7 linked regions of the Homo sapiens genome follow. The protein of the gene in region 2 purifies or fractionates together with the protein of the main gene of each other region. This does not show direct contact. Each region holds a gene or a part of one and is shown on either strand. Other genes may lie near its edges.

Region 1 (3,500 bases), on a different chromosome or scaffold from region 2:
GTATGAGCCATTTCCCACTTCTTTGTCTTGGATGAGCAGTTTTCCTTTTGTTCCATCCAGAGTGTCTTGCGCTCGTTCTGTGGACGAGCCCCAGCAGACCTGAGCCAGCACTCACTATGGGTGTATGTGGCATTGCGAGGGTCTGTCATGTGGACACAGCCATAAATGGTTGTGCATTTCTGCCTGACAGTTTTTGCACACTATTCTTCTAGTGCAGTTCTTATAAATGTCCTGCTTCTTGGAAGTTATTGGGACCTTGAGAGCAGGACCTGCCTCTTGTTTTTCCATTGCATTCCAAATTATGCATTCACCAAAATGTAAAATTGACTGTATCCTGTGGAAAAACCCCCCAGAAAATTCACCTGTTTTGGTGAGCCAGGTAGCAAACAGATGGAGCTTTCATGGTGATGATAATTCATAATTATCAGTATTTGTGCTCATTTATAGAGTGTTTGTTACTAGGGATGGGAGGGAAAGGAATGAAACCAAGAAGCAATGTCTACTTAATGTATAAGCCCAGAGGTCACTTTCCACTGTGTTGGGGACAAGGTGATAAGAAGTAGGCAATAAATACATTTTGTGTTTCTTAGCGTTCAGGAATTCATGACCTTCACGAGTCAACTGATTGTGGAGCGCTCATCGAAAGGCACTAGAGCTTCTGTCAAAGAACAAGGTAAGAAGACCCTCCAACTTCTGTGCGTGTGCTGGCCTGGCTGCCATGCCTCACCTCACATAGCACCCAGCTTTCTCCTTTCTACTGGGACCCTACTCCTCCTCTAGCTTGTTCTCTCTTTCCCACCTCTTCCTTTTCCTATTTATGCAGAATTCTGTGCCCACTGTTGAAGTCTGAGCTTCCCAGATAAAATTGCCCTCAAACTTAGACTCATTTAAGATTAGGGTCTGACTCTTTTGGAGCAGTAAGCAGCCTTCATATCGTATTCTTCCCTATCCTCTTCAGAGTTGCAGACCCCTCAAAAAAGGATTTCCAGCTAGCACTGTTGAGGTACTATATGTATTCTGTGCATCGTAGATTTTTTGATCAGGAATCTGAAAAAACTATTTTTTCTTTCTGATAATTCAGGTTTAGGCATTTATTTAGATGTGTATGTTATACAGACAGATCAGGAAAGAGTTACATGAGTTTCATCAGGTAGGGACAAAGATCATCTCACACTTATGCTAACCTCAAGTCACGTGACATAGAGTTACTGAATTGATGATATAAATGTCAGTTATGATACAGGCAGGATTGACTATATACACTTTATGTGGGATCTCTGTGCTATTAACATCATAGAAGTGAAATCGCATCACAAATATTTCAGTGTTCTTGCTCTGTTCTTCAAACTGTGCCTGCCCTTCCCACGTTTATTACTTAAAGACAATTCCTCCACTGACCAGGTTCTCAGTTTCTTTGGAGGGTATGCACTTTGACCCCATGTTTGAATCTTAATTGGGGATGGTATACAAAATCTGGAGAGCATTGGTGACAACCCCCTGTCCTCTTCCTCCTCCTCATTCTTGTTCTCATTTATCTCTGCTCTTTTCTGATTTCAGGGGCTCACCATCATTCCCTCCTCTTTTATTTGTTTTTCTGTTGTTTAGCATTGGAATCTTCTGGGTCAGATCCTTAAGGACAAGAAGGTTCTTATTTGTAAGCTGTAATCCTTACATTTCTCTTTCCTTGGGGATATGGTTAGCTGTATCAACTCTGAATCCTTTCAAAGTGATGGAAATGAACAATCCTGTGGATTGTGAATATTTTGCGGAAGACCTGTACAACTGTACCTTTCAATCATATGAGGATTTTAGCACAGTGCTCTGGAGGCCTTAGCTGGCAGTAGCTAATCTTTTTCTAGACTAACCCCCCTACTCCCAGTCACCCACCAGAGTGGAGCAAACCCAGCAGGTTGCTATAATATGGAAGACTGAGGCCCTGGGGGGTAATTTCCTGTCTTTTGGCTGCTCTGAAAAGATTTTTTAAGAAAGCAGAGGCCTCTTGGCTTGTCCAGGGTTCCCTAAGTTTGGGAGCAGCACAGAGCCCCAAGGGCTCCAGATCCCTAAGATATAGCTTGGCCTGACCCGAGCTTAAGGAATACACTTGGAAATGCTCCTGGGGCCATGTTGTCAAGGGTGTGTTTTCTGCACCACTGGCTGTTTCTTTAAGCCCTGGCTTTGCATACTGGGCCTCTGGGTATTTACTGGTCCTAAAGCAGGCGTTGGGCCAAGCTCCTGTGTGTGGCCCATTGGGCTGTGCTGCTAAGCCTCTCCACAAGACTTGCCCAGAGCTATTGAGCTTCCGAGTGGCTTCATTTGGCCTAACATTGGATGCTTTGATTTGGGGGGATTAAAAGAAGTCTGAAGCCCTCATGTCAGCATCCATGTGTCTGATCTCTTGTCTCCTTAGACTATCTGTGCCACGTCTACGTCCGGAATGATAGTCTTGCAGGTGTGGTCATTGCTGACAATGAATACCCATCCCGGGTGGCCTTTACCTTGCTGGAGAAGGTGAGTTTTTTATTTGCCTCTCCTGGACTTGGATGATGAATGGGCACATTTATGGACTGGGACAGGGGTTGATGGCAGTCCCTGAGACATAAGGGATGAAATGATGTGTCCAAAGTCAACACATTTTTCAGCCCCCTTCCCTGCAACCCAAGAGACAATTTGGCATCCCTGTATGGGTTTCCTCCCCGGTGCTGTCCCTCATGTGAGCTGGGTCTAGGCCACTGAGTCATAGCATCTATTCTCTGGGATGGGACCCTCGGAGACAGCTGTGCCTTGTGTTCTCGCCCCCTGTGCTTCTGCTCAAGGAGTCTCCCTCTTGAATGCCTTCACTCTCCCCATTGCCTCCTGCAGTTGCTGCATCCCTCTACCTTGATGTCAGTCAGTTGCACCACAGAGCTTAGCACCTAAGCATTCTTTAAATTTTTTTGCGTACGGTGCTAATTACTAATATTAACTCTTTGAAGTCAGAGGCTTCATCCTATACCCCAGAGCACCAAAATACCTCCAAACACATGGAATCTGGTGGTTTCTTAAATCTAGGGGACCTAATTCTCTTTTTTAAAAAATTGCTTTGGAAAATTAGAGGACCAGTGCCCCTTTTTTCTGGAAATCTGTAGTTTAAAATTCAAATACCTTTATTACTCCCCAAGTGAGGTTCATCTCGGGCTGGGCATACTTTTGATTCTCAGAATATTTAGGATATGTTTTAATGATAAAAATTTGGAAAGAACTTTAGCCTAGATTTTCTCTGTTGCCATTATATGTCCCCCTCATTCCTCCTTCCTGGGCTGTGAAGGCCAAGGAGCCTCATTCAGGGTGAGGTGCTCAGGGGTGAAGCCCTGTCATTGAGACCACTGGTGAGTGCACAGTGGGAGGCTTGTTGAGTCTCCTTTGTCTTGCAGGTACTAGATGAATTCTCCAAGCAAGTCGACAGGATAGACTGGCCAGTAGGATCCCCTGCTACAATCCATTACCCAGCCCTGGATGGTCAC
Region 2 (3,500 bases):
GGGCAGGGACAGTGGAGAGGGTGCTGGGAAATGAGTCCCCTGGGAGACGGGGCCCAGCTACGATGCTAAATATCTCAGGCTCCTGAGTGACTGGATTTCCCTGGGACCCTCAGACATGTCCCAGGGCCCGGTGGGGAAACTGAGGCCTGTACAAGGAAGTAGAATTCTGAGTTGTCGGGGCTAAGCCTGACCCCCTCTCCATGCTAAGCCCACCCCCCACACTGTGCCTCAGTAGGTTTTTGTTGTTGTTGTTGTTGCCCAGGCTGGAGTGCAGTGGTGCAATCAAGGCTTACTGCACCTCCACCTCCTGGGCTCAAGGGATTTTCCTGCCTCAGCCTCCTGAATAGCTGGGACTGCAGGTGCTCCACCATGCCTGGCTAATTTTTCTATTTTTAGTAGAGATGGGGTTTCACCACGTTGGCCAGGCTGGTCTCGAACTCCTGGCCTCATGTGATCTGCCTGCCTAAGCCTCCCAAAGTGCTGGGATTATAGGTGTGAGCCACCGCGTCTGGTCCCTCAGTAGGTTTTAAGGAGCCTCCAGCCTTCCTTCTCCCCTTCTGGGCCTGACCAGCTATACTGCTCTGTCTCCCCCAGCCACATGCCCCACCAAGTACTGTAGAGAGTCCCCTACCCAGGGTCCCTGCACCATGAGATAAGGTGAAATACCAACTGTGGACCAAATGCAATAAAACCTCTGTTTTTAAGAAGAAAAAAAAAAAAAAAAGAAAAGAAAACCAGGCTTATTCTATTCTTTTCTGCCAAATCAGAACTTGGAAGAAGGTAGTTTGGGAGCTACTGGCCACCATCTTGTGATTACAAGGGTAGAGCTTACCGGATAATGACACCAACATGTGGAGGAAAGTAAAGCCAAATCAAGAAACAGAGAGAACCCTATCGTCAATAACAACATCTGCTCTTCTAAATCCAGCCACACAACAGACCGTATACACCCCTAGACTTTTCTGTTATATGAACTAAATAAACTCCCTTTTAGCTCTGCCAGTTTGGGTTGCATGTTCTGTCACTTGCAACAACAACAAAATCCTAAGTGATGCTCATTCCAACTGCTATCCTAATAGAATTAACAAACAAATAAACATGAAAACCACTAGTTAAAAAAACATACAGCCAAATCATATAATATTCTTCTGTTGGGGCCAGAGTGAGAAATAAAACTCTTACCATACGTGCAAAACATGCAGTAAGGATTCCACTTCCAGATCCTACATCAAGAGCTTTAGCTCCTTCATGCAACTGATCAAATAGAAGTTCTAGCGCATATGCATGCTGCCAAAAGAAAACAAAATATTCATTAAGACTAAAGTACACACATCATGGTATATAAATAAAGTTGCCAACTTTCTACCAATTTTTCTACTATTGTCATCTACCAAGATAACCAAGTTATCTTGGCTATCTGCCCAGGTATTACTTAAGTAAACTGTTTGATTAGAATTCTTACATTCAGATCATGTGTTTCAGTAATTTTAGACCTCCAGTGTGTGAATTTTTAACTTTTAATTAATTCAGTAAAAAAATTAAAAGATTTATAAGTGAAAAGTCTCCACCCTACTCCCATTTCCAACCATCCAGGTTTCACTCTGTAAAGGTAACCAATATTACTAGTTTCTTGTGACTCCTTCCAAAAAGGAAGGAATAGATTCTTTGCATATATAAGCAAATACAAAAATACAAAGGCTAATTTTGTATTTTTAATAGAGATGAGGTTTCTCCATGTTGGTCAGGCTGGTCTCGAACTCTCGACCTCAGGTGATCCGCCCACCTCGGCCTCCCAAAGTGCTGGGATGACATACATAAGCCACCACACCCAGCCAGTATTCTCATTATTAAAAATAATCAGATCAGGCTGGGCGTGGTGGCTCAGGCCTGACATTCCAGCACTTTGGGAGGCTGAGGCAGGTAGATCACGAGGTCAGGAGTTCAAGACCAGTCTGGCTAAGATGGTGAAACTCCATCTCTACTAAAAATACAAGAAAATTAGCTGGGCATGGTGGCAGCCACCTGTAATCCCAGCTACTCGGGAGGCTGAGGCAGAGAACTGCTTGAACCCGGGACGGGGAGATTGCAGTGATCCGAGATCATGCCACTGCACTCCAGCCTGGGCTGTAACAGAGCGAGACTCCATCTCAAAAAAAAAAAAAAAAAAAAAAAAATCAGATCCAATAGCAGTAAACACATTTACTACCAGATCTTGGTTGATAAAAATACCCATCCATTAATCTATAGTGATAAATTAATACATCATTCTATACATATATAAATGAAAAATAGGGAAAACCGTTCCCAACAAATATATAGATACATAATGAATGCACATAGAAAAAATTAAGAAAATCAGCCTTTGGGCAGCCATCTCAATAATAACTGATTGATTCAGGTAAAAATCATAAATGGAAGCTAAAACTAGTGGACTAACATTTGAAAAATAAACAGGATATTTACATAATCTCAAAGGGTTTGCCCCAGATAATTATTAATCACAAAAGGAAAAATAGTAATTTTACAATGGAGTTCAGAAAAAAGTTCTCCAGTGGAAAAACTGGGTCAACACTACCTTAATCAGATGATCAAAGTTAACACCACAATTATGGGACACACTGACATCAAATGCCTCTGCTAAGATACTTCATTTCTGGGATATGCCAGGCAAAAATGCATAACCTATATTGAATTATGAGGAAACATCAAACAAACCCAAATTGAGGGACATTATACAAAATAAATGGCCCATATTCGTAAAAATTTTCAAGGTTTTCAAGGTCATAAAAGAATAAGGAACCATTTCTCAGTCATTCTTTAAAGGAAACTAAAAAGACATGACAATCAAATAAAACTCACAATCTACTATTTTCTTTTCCTATAAGGAATATTATCAGAATAATTGATGAAATCTGAATAAGGTCTATAAATTGGCTAATAGTGTTATATCAATGCTGACTTCCAGATTTCAAAAATTGTACTATGGGTATGTAAGAGAATGTCCTTATTTTTAAAGGTAAAGAGCATTGGCCGGGCACAGTGGCTCACACCTGTAATCCCAGCACTTTGGGAGGCCGAGGCGGATCACGAGGTCAGGAGATCGAGACCATCCTGGCTAACACAGTAAAACCCCATCTCTACTAAAAATACAAAAAATTAGCTGGGCGTGGTGGTGGGCGCCTGTAGTCCCAGTTACTTGGGAGGCTGAGGCAGGACAATGGCGTGAACCCGAGAGGCGGAGCTTGCAGTGAGCTGAGAACGTGCCACTGCACCACTGCACCCCAGCCTGGGCGACAGAGCAAGACTCCATCTCAAAAAAAGTTAAAGGTAAAGAGCATTATGCCTGTAATTTACCCTCAAAGAGCTCAGAAAAACGGAAATATAATACACACACATACACACACACACACACACACAGAGGAGAGAGGGGATAAAGGGAGAGAGAATAAATGATAAAGCAAATGGTGAGATTTGCTTTACCAATGGTAAGACTGTGTGGA
Region 3 (3,456 bases), on a different chromosome or scaffold from region 2:
CCAGAGCAGCCTCTGCCCACCCCTTCCTGGGTCCCTGACTCCGTCCCCCTCCGTGTGCCCCTCCCCAGATCACGCGCTGCCCCATGATCCCGTGCTACATCTCCTCCCCGGACGAGTGCCTCTGGATGGACTGGGTCACAGAGAAGAACATCAACGGGCACCAGGCCAAGTTCTTCGCCTGCATCAAGAGAAGTGACGGCTCCTGTGCGTGGTACCGCGGCGCGGCGCCCCCCAAGCAGGAGTTTCTCGACATCGAGGACCCATAAGCAGGCCTCCAACGCCCCTGTGGCCAACTGCAAAAAAAGCCTCCAAGGGTTTCGACTGGTCCAGCTCTGACATCCCTTCCTGGAAACAGCATGAATAAAACACTCATCCCATGGGTCCAAATTAATATGATTCTGCTCCCCCCTTCTCCTTTTAGACATGGTTGTGGGTCTGGAGGGAGACGTGGGTCCAAGGTCCTCATCCCATCCTCCCTCTGCCAGGCACTATGTGTCTGGGGCTTCGATCCTTGGGTGCAGGCAGGGCTGGGACACGCGGCTTCCCTCCCAGTCCCTGCCTTGGCACCGTCACAGATGCCAAGCAGGCAGCACTTAGGGATCTCCCAGCTGGGTTAGGGCAGGGCCTGGAAATGTGCATTTTGCAGAAACTTTTGAGGGTCGTTGCAAGACTGTGTAGCAGGCCTACCAGGTCCCTTTCATCTTGAGAGGGACATGGCCCTTGTTTTCTGCAGCTTCCACGCCTCTGCACTCCCTGCCCCTGGCAAGTGCTCCCATCGCCCCGGTGCCCACCATGAGCTCCCAGCACCTGACTCCCCCCACATCCAAGGGCAGCCTGGAACCAGTGGCTAGTTCTTGAAGGAGCCCCATCAATCCTATTAATCCTCAGAATTCCAGTGGGAGCCTCCCTCTGAGCCTTGTAGAAATGGGAGCGAGAAACCCCAGCTGAGCTGCGTTCCAGCCTCAGCTGAGTCTTTTTGGTCTGCACCCACCCCCCCACCCCCCCCCCCCCGCCCACATGCTCCCCAGCTTGCAGGAGGAATCGGTGAGGTCCTGTCCTGAGGCTGCTGTCCGGGGCCGGTGGCTGCCCTCAAGGTCCCTTCCCTAGCTGCTGCGGTTGCCATTGCTTCTTGCCTGTTCTGGCATCAGGCACCTGGATTGAGTTGCACAGCTTTGCTTTATCCGGGCTTGTGTGCAGGGCCCGGCTGGGCTCCCCATCTGCACATCCTGAGGACAGAAAAAGCTGGGTCTTGCTGTGCCCTCCCAGGCTTAGTGTTCCCTCCCTCAAAGACTGACAGCCATCGTTCTGCACGGGGCTTTCTGCATGTGACGCCAGCTAAGCATAGTAAGAAGTCCAGCCTAGGAAGGGAAGGATTTTGGAGGTAGGTGGCTTTGGTGACACACTCACTTCTTTCTCAGCCTCCAGGACACTATGGCCTGTTTTAAGAGACATCTTATTTTTCTAAAGGTGAATTCTCAGATGATAGGTGAACCTGAGTTGCAGATATACCAACTTCTGCTTGTATTTCTTAAATGACAAAGATTACCTAGCTAAGAAACTTCCTAGGGAACTAGGGAACCTATGTGTTCCCTCAGTGTGGTTTCCTGAAGCCAGTGATATGGGGGTTAGGATAGGAAGAACTTTCTCGGTAATGATAAGGAGAATCTCTTGTTTCCTCCCACCTGTGTTGTAAAGATAAACTGACGATATACAGGCACATTATGTAAACATACACACGCAATGAAACCGAAGCTTGGCGGCCTGGGCGTGGTCTTGCAAAATGCTTCCAAAGCCACCTTAGCCTGTTCTATTCAGCGGCAACCCCAAAGCACCTGTTAAGACTCCTGACCCCCAAGTGGCATGCAGCCCCCATGCCCACCGGGACCTGGTCAGCACAGATCTTGATGACTTCCCTTTCTAGGGCAGACTGGGAGGGTATCCAGGAATCGGCCCCTGCCCCACGGGCGTTTTCATGCTGTACAGTGACCTAAAGTTGGTAAGATGTCATAATGGACCAGTCCATGTGATTTCAGTATATACAACTCCACCAGACCCCTCCAACCCATATAACACCCCACCCCTGTTCGCTTCCTGTATGGTGATATCATATGTAACATTTACTCCTGTTTCTGCTGATTGTTTTTTTAATGTTTTGGTTTGTTTTTGACATCAGCTGTAATCATTCCTGTGCTGTGTTTTTTATTACCCTTGGTAGGTATTAGACTTGCACTTTTTTAAAAAAAGGTTTCTGCATCGTGGAAGCATTTGACCCAGAGTGGAACGCGTGGCCTATGCAGGTGGATTCCTTCAGGTCTTTCCTTTGGTTCTTTGAGCATCTTTGCTTTCATTCGTCTCCCGTCTTTGGTTCTCCAGTTCAAATTATTGCAAAGTAAAGGATCTTTGAGTAGGTTCGGTCTGAAAGGTGTGGCCTTTATATTTGATCCACACACGTTGGTCTTTTAACCGTGCTGAGCAGAAAACAAAACAGGTTAAGAAGAGCCGGGTGGCAGCTGACAGAGGAAGCCGCTCAAATACCTTCACAATAAATAGTGGCAATATATATATAGTTTAAGAAGGCTCTCCATTTGGCATCGTTTAATTTATATGTTATGTTCTAAGCACAGCTCTCTTCTCCTATTTTCATCCTGCAAGCAACTCAAAATATTTAAAATAAAGTTTACATTGTAGTTATTTTCAAATCTTTGCTTGATAAGTATTAAGAAATATTGGACTTGCTGCCGTAATTTAAAGCTCTGTTGATTTTGTTTCCGTTTGGATTTTTGGGGGAGGGGAGCACTGTGTTTATGCTGGAATATGAAGTCTGAGACCTTCCGGTGCTGGGAACACACAAGAGTTGTTGAAAGTTGACAAGCAGACTGCGCATGTCTCTGATGCTTTGTATCATTCTTGAGCAATCGCTCGGTCCGTGGACAATAAACAGTATTATCAAAGAGAACGTGGGCTCTCTCCGTGTGGCTGTATCCGATGTTCAGAACGGCCACTTCCTAGCTCAAGAATGGGAATCAGCCTCTGCAAGGAGCCTCTCCTGTCCGGCGGGAGGGGGCGCCCTGTGTCCTCCAGAGAAACAAGGCCAGTGAGCTCTGAGTCAAATATGGGATGCAGACCAGGTGTGGTGGCTCACGCCTGTCATCCCAGCACTTTGGGAGGCCAAGGCGGGTGGATTGTTTGTGCCCAGGAGTTCGAGACTAGCCTGGCCAACTTCGCAAAACCCTGTCTCTGCAAAAAATAGGCGTGGTGGCATGTACCTGTGGTCCCAGCTATTCAAAAGGCTGAGATAGGAGGATTACTTGAACCTCGGAGGCAGAGGTTGCAGTGAGCTATAATTGCACCACTGCATTCCAGCCTGGGCAAGAGAGTGAGACCCTGTCTCAAAAAAAAAAAAAAAGAAAAAAGAAAAGAAAAGTGCGATGCAGTGGCAGAGACGGGGCAGCAGAG
Region 4 (3,500 bases), on a different chromosome or scaffold from region 2:
TGTCTGGGAATCCTTAATTCACATTCTGATATTTAAAAAAAATAATACATGGTGTTAAAACACCAGGAGAACAATTTGATATAAAAATAAAAGCATTTCTTTCTACATTTTAGCATGGAAATAACCAGCCTGCAAGAACTGGCACACTGTCGAGAACAAATCCTCCTACTCAGAAACCGCCAAGTCCTCCCATGTCAGGCCGGGGAACACTGGGGTAAGAATTCAACTACATTTTGCAAAAGAATTCATATGCTAAAGGAAAAGATGTTTCTGTGACTTAAGTAAGTGTATGGGATCCATGCCACACTACCCTCTCTATGTGACGCTACCTTTTACAAATTCATTTTAATTCCTATTTTCCTGAACAGAATCCCAAATGAATCTGCCAGCTTTGTAATATTCTCTATAATCTGTACTAGGAAAGTTTTTATGTATGTATAAATGGCATGATTTATTTTTTTGTCATCTAATTTTTAAAAAATATAAATCTGACTTGTTTGTTTTAAATGGAATGATTAGAGTATTCCAAATGGTGCCTTTGCATGTGTTTACAGTATCTATATTGTAGAACTTTGACTAGTGGTCTACTTTTGTGTAGTATGGCTTAGTCCACAGCTCTTCTGTTTCGCCTATTGGTGTCTGAGACTTAGGGACTCTTTACTTTAGGAAAGTATGCACTTTACTTGTAACTATGCTTCTGCTGGTAATCTTAGGCCTCTTCACACTAGAGTAGCTCCATGGGAAGGCCAGTTGGGCAAGTAGAAAAGATAACAGTGGCTTCTTCCTTCCTAGTTCTCAGTGTACTAAATATAGCGAATACTTGTCAAAGCATTATATTTCTTTAAGGTTGTTTTTCTTAATACTGGAAATATTATATTGGATTTCTTATTTTTTGGCAGAGGGGTTGTTCAACAATCAGTCTTCTTTTAAGAAGGTCTTAGTTTTCATTTTTATTCATTAAACCCTCTGCCCCTGAAAAAAAAAATGAAGTTATTAAACAGAATAGTCGAAATCATTTATTGAGAAAGTAATGATTAGAATGTATATCTCCATTTATTGCCATATTGAGATGGGAATAAATTGCAGCTTCCTATGTAAATAAATTTAGCTTCCTGTTTAAAGAACAGTGGCTTATGGGTGACTGTACTGAGAAAAATGTACATTTTAAAGTTTGCTATTATTGAGCATTTAAAAAATTATAACCATAATTTTTAGAAATAAGGTTAGGACTTTAAATTACCCTTTCCTATGTTTTTCCTAGGAAAAGGTAACAAATTTTAGTTTTCATGTTAAAGTAACAAAATTCATATATCCCAGTGAAGAATATTTTTTAAAATTACAAACTTTGTCATATATATTTTTAAATCCTGGTATACATGGTCACAAAGGGAGACTCACATATTTTTGGGAAAAATACAATTTTATCTTTTTTATTCATTATTCCTTTCTCCACTATGCTCCTTTAGACGGAATACTCCTTATAAAACCCTGGAACCTGTTAAACCCCCAACAGTTCCTAATGACTATATGACCAGTCCTGCTAGGCTTGGAAGTCAGCATAGTCCAGGCAGGACAGCATCTTTAAATCAGAGACCAAGGACACACAGGTAAGCCTTTAGGTTGAGTATCTCAACATCTCTAAAGTGGGTGTAACTGACTGGCGACAAACTCCTATGGAGGTGCTGAGTAAAGGTGAGGTGCCACTCTAATGCTAATATAAAATGTAAAAGTTGGGGGAATAATATTATATATGTTCCTGTAAGTTTGTGTTATAACTTCTGTTTTGTTTTGTTTTTTTAACTTTTTAAAACATCTATTTGTACTATTAATGGATTGTTTGTATTTCCTCCTTTTGATAGAGGTACAGACTCTATCAGACTCTACGGGTTAAGACTAAAGAATTTTTTTCTTTTTTTTTTTGTGACGGAGTTTTGCTCTCGTTGCCCAGGCTGGAGTGTAGTGGTGCGATCTCGGCTCACTGCAACCTCTGCCTCCCAGGTTCAAGCGATTTTCCTGCCTCAGCCTCCCAAGTAGCTGGGATTACAGGCCTGAGCCACCACGCCTGGCTAATTTTGAGTTGAGACGGGGTTTCTGCATGTTGGTCAGGCTGGTTTCCAACTCCCAACCTCAGGTGATCCTCCTGCCTCGGCCTCCCAAAGTGCTGGGATTACAGGTGTGAGCCACTGTGCCCAGCCCTAAGAATGTTTTAAAATGCTCTTTTAAAAAAATTCAAGGCAAACCACTCAAATACTTTTGGAGAAAAGATTAAATATCATAGGAATTATACAACGTGATTTAAACTTTCAGAGATTGAAGGAAAGAAGATTAAGCTTAAATCTGAGGGAGATTTTTTTAAGAGAATCAGTATACTAGAATATGTTGTTATAATAATAATATTATTATTATCTTTTTGGAGATGGAGTCTAGCTCTGTCACCCAGGCTGGAGTGCAGTGACGCGATCTCGGCTCACTGCAACTTCTACCACCCAGGCTTAAGCAATTCTCCTGCCTCAGCTTCCAGAGTAGCTGGGATTACAGGTGCATGCCACCACGCCTGGCTAATTTTTGTATTTTAGTAGAGATGAGGTTTCACCATGTTGCCCAGGCTGGTCTCTAACTCCTGACCTCAGGTGATCCACCCACCTCGGCCTCCCAAAGTGTTGGGATTACAGGCATGATCCACCGCTCCTGGCCTTGTATTTATTATTTTTAAATGTCCTAAAAGTCAATTACCCGGTGGGTTTTTAAAAATTTAGTTACAGAGCATAACAAGCATTCAGAAAAGTATCCACTTCAGTAAGTATACAGCTTGATGAATGGACACACACTCATATAACCATCACCCAGATCAGAAAATGGAACATTACCAGCAACCCAGAAGCCCCTCATGCTCCTTCCTGGTTATCGCCTCGACCTTCTTCCCCCAAAATATAGCCACTTCAATTTTTGAGTGCTTTATAAAACCAGATAAATTTATTATATAACCAAATTTGTTTTATTCTTCAGTTTTCTCTCTCACTTAATAACGTGGGCAGGGAACCTCTCTTTTGCCTTCACTCTTAGGTTGGTAAATGAGAGATAACTTATCAAAATGATTTATGGGAATTCCACTAAATAGGGTATATCAAGATGCGAGATGCTAGGTAAGCGGTATTTATTACTATTGGTGCTGTTAGTAAACAAATTGTTAAGTTGATATCTGCAGTTACTGTATCAGGTCAAGTTCTTTGAGGAACAAAATTGTTCTCTTTGTTGTTATTGAACTCTTGGATCAAAGTATAGTTTTTCTCTATAGTGGAAGCATAGTTTAATCATATTCAACAAGCAGTTATTAAGTGTTGTTTCATTAGATACTAGGCATTTGTCAATAGGGCATAGTTCTTTTTTCAAGAGCTCATTCTGTTAGAACAGGGATCAGCAAACTTTTTCTATAAAGGGCCAGATTGTCAATATTTTAGGATTCGTGGGCCATATATATGGTTTCTGATGCAATTACTCAG
Region 5 (3,500 bases), on a different chromosome or scaffold from region 2:
GCACAGCTCCTGCAGCCCACGCTGGAGATCAACCCCAGGTGAGGCCACGCTCCTGGCTCTTCCAGCCTGTGGGATTCCCCAGAATCCTGTGTGTGGTGTTCTTTTGTTGTGGAATGTGACACAGAAGAAAAGTGCGTGAGGCCTGTGGACATGTGGGTAACTATAAGGAGCTGTATGCAGTTTAGGCTGCACCCATGTGAAATGGAACCTGGCCAGCCCCTTACCATCCCCAGGTGTCACCTGGGAGGTTAGCCACATCCCAGCCTGTGACCATGTCCTCGTTTTGCTTTATGGCTTTGCCACCTGTGCGTGTCCTGGACATGCTCAGTTTTGCCTGTTTTGAGCTTTGTACGTGGATCTTGGTGTTTGCTGAAGTCTCACGTTGCTCACTTGGCATGAGGGTTGCCCATGCAGAGGGGCTGCCACAAGTTCATTTTCATAGCCGAATAATGTCCGCTGCAGAAACCCACCTCGGCACAGCAGACTGCTCCGTTCTGCTCTGCTGGGCCTCCGGTGGTTCTTGGTCAGAAGTTGTGGAGAGCCAGGCTGCTCTGAGTATTCTTGTCCACGTGTCTGGGGCTTGTGTGGGTTTCTCTGTGGCCCCGGTGGTGGGAGCTGCTTCCAGGGTGCACCGAGAACCCCCCAGCCCTGACAGTGGCTGAGCCGTAAGATTTCCCTCGTTTCTTCCTGTTGTTCTTTATATGCCCTTTATCTGTTGTAAATGTCTTTTCACCTGCCTTTAGGTATCTTTTGAGTTTCTTTCTTTTTACAGTATCACTTCTTTGCACCCATGAATGTGATCTATTTAGGTCTTTAACATCCTTTGGTACCTTACATTCTCTGTAGGGTTCTGGTACCATTTTTAAAGAATTATTCTTTGATGTGTCTTATGGGGTATTTTAAAATTTCATTTTCTAACTTGTATATGAACTAACTTGTATATGAAGTTTCTTTTTTGGGGGAAATTTTGAATGTAGCAATTTTTTAAAAAATGAAGTTACATAAACATGTTACCAAAAATAGAAAACAGCAAAAAGGAAATCAAAATCCATAGACTTACCACCCCCCCCACAATGTAGCCTAAGTAGTATTTTAATTTTTGAGACAGGGTCTCACTCTGTCCCCCAGGTTGGAGTGCAGTGGGGCAATCTCAGCTCACTGCAACTTCTACCTCCTGGCCTCAAACAATCCACCTGCCTTAGCCTCCCGAAGTGCTGGGATTACAAGTGTGGGCTACCACCCCCAGCCAGTTTTTGTTTTGTTCTTTAGTACATGTCTAGTTTTTTTCTTTTGTCATTTTACAACCATAACTTTTAAAATTATACTGGAGGCGAGGGAGATGCATCTTCCTAGCCATGGCACTCCTGGGGAAAGGCTGACTTGGCTTATGGCTGTCAGTGCACAGCAGCGCCAGTATGCAGAATGCCTGTGCCTCTGCTGGAGCAGCTCAGTGAGGCGGACACCAGGTCACTTTAACTAGTTTTGGTGGCAAACTAGTTTTGTGAGATAGCTGCAGAAGTGCTCGTTTCTGTCTGTTGCCACTTCACTTTTGGAGACAGGGTCTTGCTCTGTCACCTAGGCTGGAGTGTACCAGTGGCGCCATCAGAGCTCACTGCAGCCTTGGCCTCCCAAAGTGGTGGGATTACAGGCGAGAGCCACTGTGCCCAGCCAGCTTCACTTTCATTTGTTTTAAAATTTGGTGTTCTGTCCACATAGTTCAGAATTCAAAACTGCTTACAGGGGAAAATTTCCTCCTACCTGTGTCCCCAGTGCAGCCAGCATTAGGGCTTTTGTATTTCTGCAGAGATTATGTGCATTTGTGGGCAGCTGCGCCCGTGGGCTTCCAAGGGGGAACTTGCTGTGCAGTGGGTCCTTGCCTTGCTTTTCTCCCTTAGGGTAACTAGGTGACCTCCACATTAGCATATTAAGAATGTCCTTTTTTTCCAGCTACGTAGACTAGAAATGTGAGGATGTGCATTTGAAGTGTTTCCTCTGTTAGGTTGGGTGCGGTGCCTCACGCCTGTAATCCCAACATTTTGGGAGGCCTAGGCGGGTGGATCACTTGAGGTCAGGAGTTCGAGACCTCATCTCTACTAAAAATACAAAAACTAGCTGGGGGTGGTGGTGGGTGCCTGTAATCCCAGTTACTTGGGAGGCTGAGGCAAGAGAACCTCTTGAAACCAGGAGGCTGCGGTGAGCCAAGATCATGCCATTTCACTCTAGCTTGGGTGAAGGAGTGAGAGTCTATCTATCTATCTATCTATCTATCTATCTAAAAAAAAAAGTGTTTAAAGGGATGCAGTTAGGAAATGGAATGGCTGAGTCTCAGCATATCATCCACATGTGGTTTTCCCGACTCCAGTTGTCCTCTGGAGAGGTTGTACAAATTTACAGTTCCCCAGAGCCCTCGGTTTTATCAGACTTCTAAGTGAAAAATTATAATATTCATGTTAAGGTTAAATACTACATGATGCTTTTTCCTATGCAGAAAAAAATATTGTTCTGACGTCAAATATGTCAATCATTCTTTACTTTTTGGTTTGTGGTTTTGCTTGGAAAGGCTTTCCCCTTCTGAGATGATGAAACATTTCTTCCCTAGAATTGTGCTTGTCATCTTTGATCCCTCTGGAATTTACTCTGGTCTAAATGGTTTTCTGCATGGCTCCCAGTCATCCCAGTGCTGCTGGATGGAGTGATCTGTCTCCTCCCTCTTCTGTGAAATACTGTCCTCATCAGACACTCAGTGTCCACCCTCGTTACATGGAGTTGTTTGCCTTCCCCCTTTCCAGACCTAAACTGTTTTATTTACTAGAGCCCTATAATATGTTTCAACATGTGGGTCTTACTCCCTTCTCTTTTATTATTTATCTAGGAACCAAGGCATGTCTTCACGTACTAAGCTCCTTTTGTCCCTTTAGTGTATATTAATCTTGGAGTTTGGCTACCTTACAGCATTTTCTAATACTGACACTCCTGATTCTCTTGGGTTTTCTGGGTATATAATGATATTATCTATAAATGATCATTAACATACCTTATTTAAAAAACTACAGACAGTCTTACTGTGCTTCTTTAAATATCCTGATAATCCCAAAACATGAAGGGAGGGTCACAGCACGTGGTACTGAGCTGCTTTTTCTGGTGGGTTCTGTGTTGCAGGCACGCGCTCATCAAGAAGCTGAATCAGCTGCGCGCAAGCGAGCCTGGCCTGGCTCAGCTGCTGGTGGATCAGGTGAGTGCAGCAGCTTAGGATGACTGCAGGGACCCAGGCTACCAGCCCTGCCAGCCTGCCTTCAGGGTGGAACAGCGGTTTCCTCTAAAATCCTGTCTTTTTGTTTGTTTGTTTGTTTTTTGAGATGGAGTGTTGCTCTGTTGCCAGGCTGGAGTGCAGTGGCGCGATCTTGGCTCACTACAACCTCTGCCTCCCGGGTTCAAGCAATTCCCCTGCCTCAGCCTCCCGAGTAGCTGGGACTACAGGCATGCGCCTGGCTAATTTTGTA
Region 6 (3,500 bases), on a different chromosome or scaffold from region 2:
TCAAGGAAGAAATGAACTGTTCCGTCTCACTGAAAGCACGTACGGGGAGGAAGGGGGAAGGAGCTAACAATCCAGGAAAATCTCACCAAGAAAAAGAAAGCATGTCAAGGCTTCAATCACTGTGGTTTGGGTTATTTTTAATAACCAAAGATGACTCATGATCGTTTACATATGCACGTTAAGGAACTGAGAAATTTACTTGAAGGATTCAAAATCAAATACCCAGATCATCCACGGAGAATGTTTCAAATAAATGTGGCTTGTAGCTTAATTATCTTTTTTTTTCTTTAAGAGAGGGTGTTGCTCTGCTGTCCAGGCTTGAGTGCAGTAGTTGATCATAGCCCACTATAACCACGAACTCCTTGGCTCAAGTGGTCCTCCTGCCTCAGCCTTCAGAGTAGCTAGGACTACAGGCATGTGACCATGCCCTAACTTTTTTTCTTTTTTTTTTTTTTTTTTTTTTTTTTGTGAAGACAAGGTCTATGTTACCTAGGCTGGTCTCCAACTCCTGGGCTTAAGTGATCTGCCCACCTCAGCCTCCCAACATGCTGCGATTACAGGCATGAGCCACTGTGCCCAGCCACTTAATTATCTAAATAATTAGTTCGATTATCCATTGCATAGAGTAGGTCCAAGCACAGTGAGCTCGTCTGGGAAGCAGACCCCCAAAACCTCACATGACAGGGACCGTTAACAACCAGTTATACTGCTCATGAGCCATGCAGGCAGCCCTACAAGCTAACCATGACTCCTGGTTCTGTTCCAATTACCCAGGTACAATCAGAAGGCAGGTTTCAATCAGCTGGTCAGAGAAAGGGTCATTGTGAACAGACCACCCAAAGGTAGGAAAGAGCCCAGGCAGACAAGCTTTGGCGAAGAGCACTCGCGCTTTGGACCTAAGTGTCAAGGTCTGCGCCGAGTGCACAGCCCTCACCTTTGGGTGGCTGACCTACACACTGTCAGGTGAGAGCTTTCATTTTTAAGGCCCCCCAGATGATCCTAATATGTAGTCAGATTGAGACCCACTGTTCTAACAGGCCCAAAACAAAAAGAAAAAGGGTGGCTGACTCTTCCCAAAAGTGCTGGTTATATCTTTCTCAACAGGCCCATTCAATTCCTGAGCACGCCCACCCAGTGGCAGCACAGTGGGCAAGACACACGGATGCATCAAGCCGCCAGGGCTCACAGCCCAGCAGGAAACAAAAGGAGAGTCACTAACCTCTGAAAATGCTTTGCAGCCCACACTACCTAGATCCCCAGACCCTCAGTGGATTCCTGATTTCCTCCTATTGATCTCTGCACGGGCTGTTACTGTGACCAGGCCTCGCATCTGTTCCCTTATGACCAGATGGTTAGAACCTGATGCCTCCTAACTGGTCCTGTACCACCGGAACAGAGCTGAAGGTTCTAAGCCAGGGGTGTCCAATGTTTTGGCTTCCCTGGGCCTTAAGAGGAAGAAGAAGAATGGTCTTGGGCCACACATAAAATACACTAACACTAACAATAGCTGATGAGCTTAAAAAATATCATTAAAAAAATCTCATAATGTTTTAAGAAAGTTTAAGAATTTGTGTTGGGCTGCATTCAAAGCTGTCCTGGGCCACATGTGGCCCACAGACCGTGGGTTGGACAGGCTTGTTCTAAATGTTTAGTTTTTTTCCCCCAATTCACCAGCAGTTACCTTCATGCCAAGTGGGCAGCAGACACAAGACAATCACTTGGCAAAATCTATTCTTTCAATACTAACATTATTTACAAAGGAAAAGGAAGAAGCTTGAAAGAACACAGAAAGCCAAAAGACCTAATTGAACGTCTGTTAAGAACCAGCTCCTTCCTCCAACTGTGCCAGAAAGTAACTAAGCTTTTGGCTGGTCCAGCAAGACAGGGCAGTCAGGCTGACAATGGTGCTCTTGCTGAACTTTCAGCCAGAGTGCGATTCTGAACTCCCGGGTGAACGGTACAAGGAAATCCTGACTGCAGGCTGGGTCAACCCGCCCAATGCCATCGGACAAAGAATAAAACATTACTACTAGGGTTCCAAATGTGAGCCATCTGACTACGTCTTGCACACTGAAACCTCAGACTAGCCAATTCTGCACTCCAATCTCCTTCAAAAGAGAGCCGGGAGAGACTGCTGCGAGGGACAGGCACAGAAGAAAGACCCTGTGAGAACACAGTGAGAAGGTGGCCATCTGCAAAGAGGCCTGCCAGGAGGGAGGCCTCAGAAGAAAGCAAACCTGCAGACATCTTGATCTTGAACTTCTAGCCTCCAGAACTGTGAGAAAATAAAGTTCTGTTTAAGGAAAAAAAAAAAAGAGAGAGAGTGTGTGTTGAATATTCTTTCAGTTCTATCTTAAAATCAATTACACTGGAAAAAGGCAAAACGAAGCAAATAAATGACTTCTTTCCCTTTTCCTGAATTCCTGACCTCCACTCTTCTGACTTCCCAACCCCACCTCTCCAGACAGAAGGAGGACTGATTTGGGTAAGCCTAAGAGCCACAGCCGAAGCACTTACTGTGACTGTCAGTCCCAAAGAATGCAATATTCATCATCACTGTCACACGGAATGTGAGAAAGAGAAAAGTGATCCCAGGTTACAGTAACAAACCTACAGCCAAAGTTAATTTCAGCGTTACAGAGCTAAGGCAAACAGAAAACGTTACGGGTGTATTCAATATTAAAACATATTTCACCATCAACGGCTAATCAAAACTATCCATTCTAAAGCTCAGGGAAGATAAATTATTCTATTTCCTCCCAAGGGAGATTCATCTATCTTAGAAAATGCTTTTTTCACAACATAATTTTAGCTTATAGGATCAGTAGTAGTTGCATTTTTTAAAAAACTAGAACAGGCTGGGCATGGTGGCTCACACTTGTAATCCTAGCACTTTGGGAGAGCGAGGCAGGCGGATCACCTGAGGTCAGGAGTTCAAGACCAGTCTGGCCAACATGGTGAAACCCCATCTCTACCAAAAATATAAAAATTTGGGCCAGGCGTGGTGGCTCATGCCTGTAATCCCACCACTTTGAGAGGCCAAGGTGGGCAGATCACTTGAGGCCAGAAGTTCAAGACCAGCCTGGCCAACATGGTGAAACCCCATCTCTACTAAAAATACAAAAAAATTAGCTGGGCGTGGTGGTGCACGCCTGTAATCCCAGCTACTTGGGAGGCTGAGGCAGGAGAATCACTTGAACCTTATCTCCTCTCACAAGTATTTAAGCGATTGAATACTTGGTTCAATTGCTTGAATACCTCACAAGCTTGAACCTTGTGACAGACAGGTGGAGGTTGCAGTGAGCCGAGATCATGCCACTGCACTCCAGCCTGGGCAACAAAGTGAGGCTCTGTCAAAAAAATAAATTTAAAAAAATATAAAAATTAGCTGGGCACGGTGGCACACACCTGTAATCCCCACTACTTGGGAGGCTGAGGCAGGATAATCACTTGAACCCAGGAGGTGGAGACTGTAGTGAGCCAAGATCACGACACTACCT
Region 7 (3,500 bases), on a different chromosome or scaffold from region 2:
TACAGAAAAGGTGTAACCTGGCTCTTAGGACTTTAAGCCACATTATGGTAGTAGACCTGCCGTTTTATTTGACATGGTGAAATAAACTACCACTCCTTTGTGGTACCATATGGGCAGGACAGAGCTCTTCAACCCTGGCTAACAAGCCTGAAGAAGACCCTGTGAGGCCGCAGCAGCCATGGGAACTTCCCAAAGGACAGAAATCCACATGCTAACGTAGCATCCAGATAGGTGACAGAAATTCCTTCCACCATATCCAAATGTGTCCTGTTTTGGGGATTTATGTTAGGAAGAAGTTAAAATGTAAAGTATTTGATGAACATCTGATTTATTTCTTTTTAGAATAAGTCGAAACATTAATTCAGTGGGGAAGATGGTGGGAGGTGTGTTAGTTTCCTGTGGCTGCCATAACAAATTAGTATACACTTGGTGGCCTAAAACAACAGAAACATATTTTCTTATAGTTCTGGCGACCAGAAGTCAGAAGTCAAGGTGTCAGCGGGGCTGTGCTCCTTCTGAGGGCTCTAGGGGAGGAGTCCTCCTTGCTCCTTCTAGTCTCTGGTAGCTCGGGGCTCCTTGGCTGGTGGCTCCATGATGCCCCTGCCTCTGTCTTCATATGATGCCCCTGCCTCTGTATGTATCTGTGGCTTCTCCCTTTCTGTCTAAGGACAGTTGCCACTGTTGGATTTAGGCCCCATCTAGGTAATCCAGAAAGATCTTAAGGTTTTTAACTTAATTACATCTGCAAAGACCCCCTTTCTTTTTCTTTTTTCCCTTGAGATGGAGTCTCACTCTATTGCCCAGGAAATAGTGTAGTGGCACAGTCATAGCTCATTGCAGGCTCAACCTCCTGGGTTCAGGCGATCTCCCACCTCTGCCTCCCAAAGTGCTGGGATTACAGGCATGAGCCACTGTGCCTGGCCCAAAGATCCTTTTTTTGAATAAAATCACCATTCACAGGTTCTGGGGATTAGGAATTTGACATATCTTGTTAGGGACCACCATGCAACCCACTGAAGTGATGTGTATATTTATGTATTTAAGGAGAGGCAAGACAAAGAGAAGTGACCTTTTTTTTTTCCCACTCCAAGTTTTCATTATTTGTCGAGCTATTCCCAATGTCCCTCTCTGGTGACTCTCCACTGAAGATAGTTTTCAACTTTTTCTTTACATATAATTGAAAAAAAAAAAAAGAAACTTAGTAGTCATTGCTTTGACCTTCAACACTGGTTGTCAGGTTACAGTGATTATAGGTTTAGACTAAGCCATGGGCCCCTCAGTCCCCCTGAACTCCTGTGTTTATGTAGTAATCCCCCTCTCTCGTGTGTGTGTGTATATGTGTGTGTCTTTTCTTCTAGGAAAGTCAATACTCCCAGTTATTTACCTATGAGCAATTCTAAGAATTCTGATTCCTCTCTAGGTTGAGTAACACAGACTGCATCTTGTGGGCTGACATAACGCACATATGTGCTTTGACTTCTCTTGTAACCAAGAGCTGTTCAACACTGACAGGCGGCACTGTAACCCAAAGAGTACTTTACTGGTAGATTTCCTAGTTTTTCCATGACCCTGGCTGAGCAAATGTTCTTTAGATTTGACCTAGAAAACCCTTCTTGTGTGTTTTGTAACCTCACAAGCCACTGCTAATGTACCTTCTTCACTTGGGCCACCCACCGTGATTTCTGTCCTGGATTCCCTGAGCCAAATACCCATGATGGGATGGTTCAGTGATGTGGATGGATGGCTATTTGTGTAAGGGCCGAAAACTAGTTTTCTAAGATGGGAGAGCTGGGCAGTTACTTATACTCTGAAGCCCTTCTCTTTCTCTGCTGGGGCTTTCCCAGCAGTTCCTAATAGTTCCTTGTATTTCAGATAAGTCATCATGATTGTTAGGAAAAAAAGAAAAAGTTAGTTTTTAGCCTCCTGACTTCTTAAGTCAAGTGAGACTTTTAAAATTTAGTAAATAATAGCTCATTATTTTTATGGTAGCTATTTGATTATTTTAATTCTTTAGCAGCACTGAAGAAATTCAGAGAAGTTCAATAGAGAGTAATAGCTATAAAGGGAAGAAGGGTGATTTGTCAAACTTCAGAATCAACTTTAAATGTAAAAACAAAAAGATCATTCCACCAACTCAGGCCACCTTGTTGAGTGAAGAGAGAAAACATTTACAGAACACCTGGAAAGACCTTCGGGCCTGGAGCTGAGAAATACGTGGAAGCCTCACTAGAATGAGTTCTTTATTGGTTCGGTGGACAGCCAGGTTACTAAGGAGCACTTTTTGTTAAATAAGTGACCAAAATCCCCTTGGGCCATCTCCTAAAATGATCTTTATCATAATAGCTACAGTAAAAAGAAAGAAGGAGAGGTATTAATGTGGGTGGAAATCAGGACAGTTTCCTAATGCCGTGGCTTACAATTCTGAGATTTCTCCAGGCATCAGGACATGTGCGCGCACAGGACTTGGCTCTCTTAGGAGATACTTCAGTTTGTATCAGATGTGGCTGTGGAGGGTGCTCTTTAAGCATTGCTAACTATGAGTGGGTCCCTCTCAGAAGAAAGGACTGTAAGAGGTATGAAACTTCTGAGAAAACGAGCTGTCTTCTCTTACCAAGCGCCTGCAGCCGTCAAAATGCTGTAGGCTTTAGTCGTCTGCCAGTTCCCAAGCTGAGCTGTCTCCTTCATGGATAGGATTTGTTTGTTTAGAAACAACAACAAAGTTCATTCTGTTTATAACTCAGAGCATTTGTTTTTTCTGCTGAGGCTAAAATACTTGTTTATTCTTTCCTAGAGGAGAAAAGAAAAGAGAACAATTAAAAACAAGAAAAACAAAACTAGATATTCTAAATTTCACAAGCGTTTTTCAAAAAGAGACGAGGCCATATTTTTCCTTAAAGAAAATTACTTTTTTTTTTGAGAGAACAGGATCTCACTCTGTCACCCTGGCTGGAATGCAGTGACATGATCACAGCTCACTGCAGCCTCACCCTACCATGCTAAAGTGATCCTCCCACCTCAGCCTTCCAAGTAGCAGCTGGTACCATAGGTGCACACCACCATGCCTGGCTAATTTTTTATTTTTTTTAGAGACAGGAGGTCTCACCATATTGCCCAGGCTGGTCTCGAACCCCTAGGCTCAAGTGATCCTCCTGCTTCAGCCCACCCAAAGAGTTGGGATTACAGGCATGAGACACCATGCTTGGCCGAAAATCATTATTAATTAAAAATGTCAGAGCAACCTTTTATCTAGACGTTGATCTTATCTACGCTACAACTGTCATCTTGTGAGGGACATGGGAAATGGGAAAAGGGAGAGGGGAGGACCTTTGTTAGTGTCTCTCTGGTGATATAATGGGGAAACTAAGGCTAGGCATGGTAAAGATCCTGTCTTTAAAAAAAAACAAAAAAAAAACTGGAAACTGAATTGCCAAGTGGTTCTGTGGCTTGTTAGAAGGCCGCAGGTGAGACTTTGCTGCCTTTCTCCTGACTTGTAACGTTGT

Evidence for each region.
Region 1: the proteins of PCMT1 (region 2) and YKT6 fractionate together in Homo sapiens (co-fractionation; one large-scale study listed by BioGRID). This does not show direct contact.
Region 3: the proteins of PCMT1 (region 2) and TIMP2 purify together in Homo sapiens (co-immunoprecipitation; one large-scale study listed by IntAct). This does not show direct contact.
Region 4: the proteins of PCMT1 (region 2) and ABI1 purify together in Homo sapiens (affinity purification with mass spectrometry; 2 studies listed by BioGRID and IntAct, with this or other methods). This does not show direct contact.
Region 5: the proteins of PCMT1 (region 2) and TRAP1 fractionate together in Homo sapiens (co-fractionation; one large-scale study listed by BioGRID). This does not show direct contact.
Region 6: the proteins of PCMT1 (region 2) and RMC1 purify together in Homo sapiens (affinity purification with mass spectrometry; 3 studies listed by BioGRID and IntAct, with this or other methods). This does not show direct contact.
Region 7: the proteins of PCMT1 (region 2) and KLHL42 purify together in Homo sapiens (affinity purification with mass spectrometry; 3 studies listed by BioGRID and IntAct, with this or other methods). This does not show direct contact.

The regions. Positions count from the first base shown.
Region 1 is NC_000007.14:44,203,978-44,207,477, forward strand, and holds part of YKT6 (synaptobrevin homolog YKT6), read left to right. Parts: intron 1-590; coding exon 591-673; intron 674-2,407; coding exon 2,408-2,508; intron 2,509-3,410; coding exon 3,411-3,500. UniProt on the Homo sapiens protein: Vesicular soluble NSF attachment protein receptor (v-SNARE) mediating vesicle docking and fusion to a specific acceptor cellular compartment. Functions in endoplasmic reticulum to Golgi transport; as part of a SNARE complex composed of GOSR1, GOSR2 and STX5.
Region 2 is NC_000006.12:149,787,741-149,791,240, reverse strand, and holds part of PCMT1 (protein-L-isoaspartate(D-aspartate) O-methyltransferase), read right to left. Parts: intron 1,288-3,500; coding exon 1,183-1,287; intron 1-1,182. UniProt on the Homo sapiens protein: Initiates the repair of damaged proteins by catalyzing methyl esterification of L-isoaspartyl and D-aspartyl residues produced by spontaneous isomerization and racemization of L-aspartyl and L-asparaginyl residues in aging peptides and proteins.
Region 3 is NC_000017.11:78,852,477-78,855,932, reverse strand, and holds the end of TIMP2 (metalloproteinase inhibitor 2 precursor), read left to right. Parts: intron 1-68; coding exon 69-266; 3' UTR 267-2,956; downstream 2,957-3,456. UniProt on the Homo sapiens protein: Complexes with metalloproteinases (such as collagenases) and irreversibly inactivates them by binding to their catalytic zinc cofactor. Known to act on MMP-1, MMP-2, MMP-3, MMP-7, MMP-8, MMP-9, MMP-10, MMP-13, MMP-14, MMP-15, MMP-16 and MMP-19.
Region 4 is NC_000010.11:26,766,959-26,770,458, reverse strand, and holds part of ABI1 (abl interactor 1), read left to right. Parts: intron 1-113; coding exon 114-214; intron 215-1,466; coding exon 1,467-1,607; intron 1,608-3,500. UniProt on the Homo sapiens protein: May act in negative regulation of cell growth and transformation by interacting with nonreceptor tyrosine kinases ABL1 and/or ABL2. May play a role in regulation of EGF-induced Erk pathway activation. Involved in cytoskeletal reorganization and EGFR signaling.
Region 5 is NC_000016.10:3,658,525-3,662,024, reverse strand, and holds part of TRAP1 (heat shock protein 75 kDa, mitochondrial isoform 1 precursor), read left to right. Parts: coding exon 1-38; intron 39-3,159; coding exon 3,160-3,232; intron 3,233-3,500.
Region 6 is NC_000018.10:23,520,511-23,524,010, reverse strand, and holds part of RMC1 (regulator of MON1-CCZ1 complex), read right to left. Parts: intron 2,421-3,500; exon of another isoform or gene 1,122-2,420; coding exon of another isoform or gene 1,105-1,121; intron 1-1,104. UniProt on the Homo sapiens protein: Component of the CCZ1-MON1 RAB7A guanine exchange factor (GEF). Acts as a positive regulator of CCZ1-MON1A/B function necessary for endosomal/autophagic flux and efficient RAB7A localization.
Region 7 is NC_000012.12:27,793,733-27,797,232, forward strand, and holds part of KLHL42 (kelch-like protein 42), read left to right. Parts: intron 1-3,500. UniProt on the Homo sapiens protein: Substrate-specific adapter of a BCR (BTB-CUL3-RBX1) E3 ubiquitin-protein ligase complex required for mitotic progression and cytokinesis. The BCR(KLHL42) E3 ubiquitin ligase complex mediates the ubiquitination and subsequent degradation of KATNA1.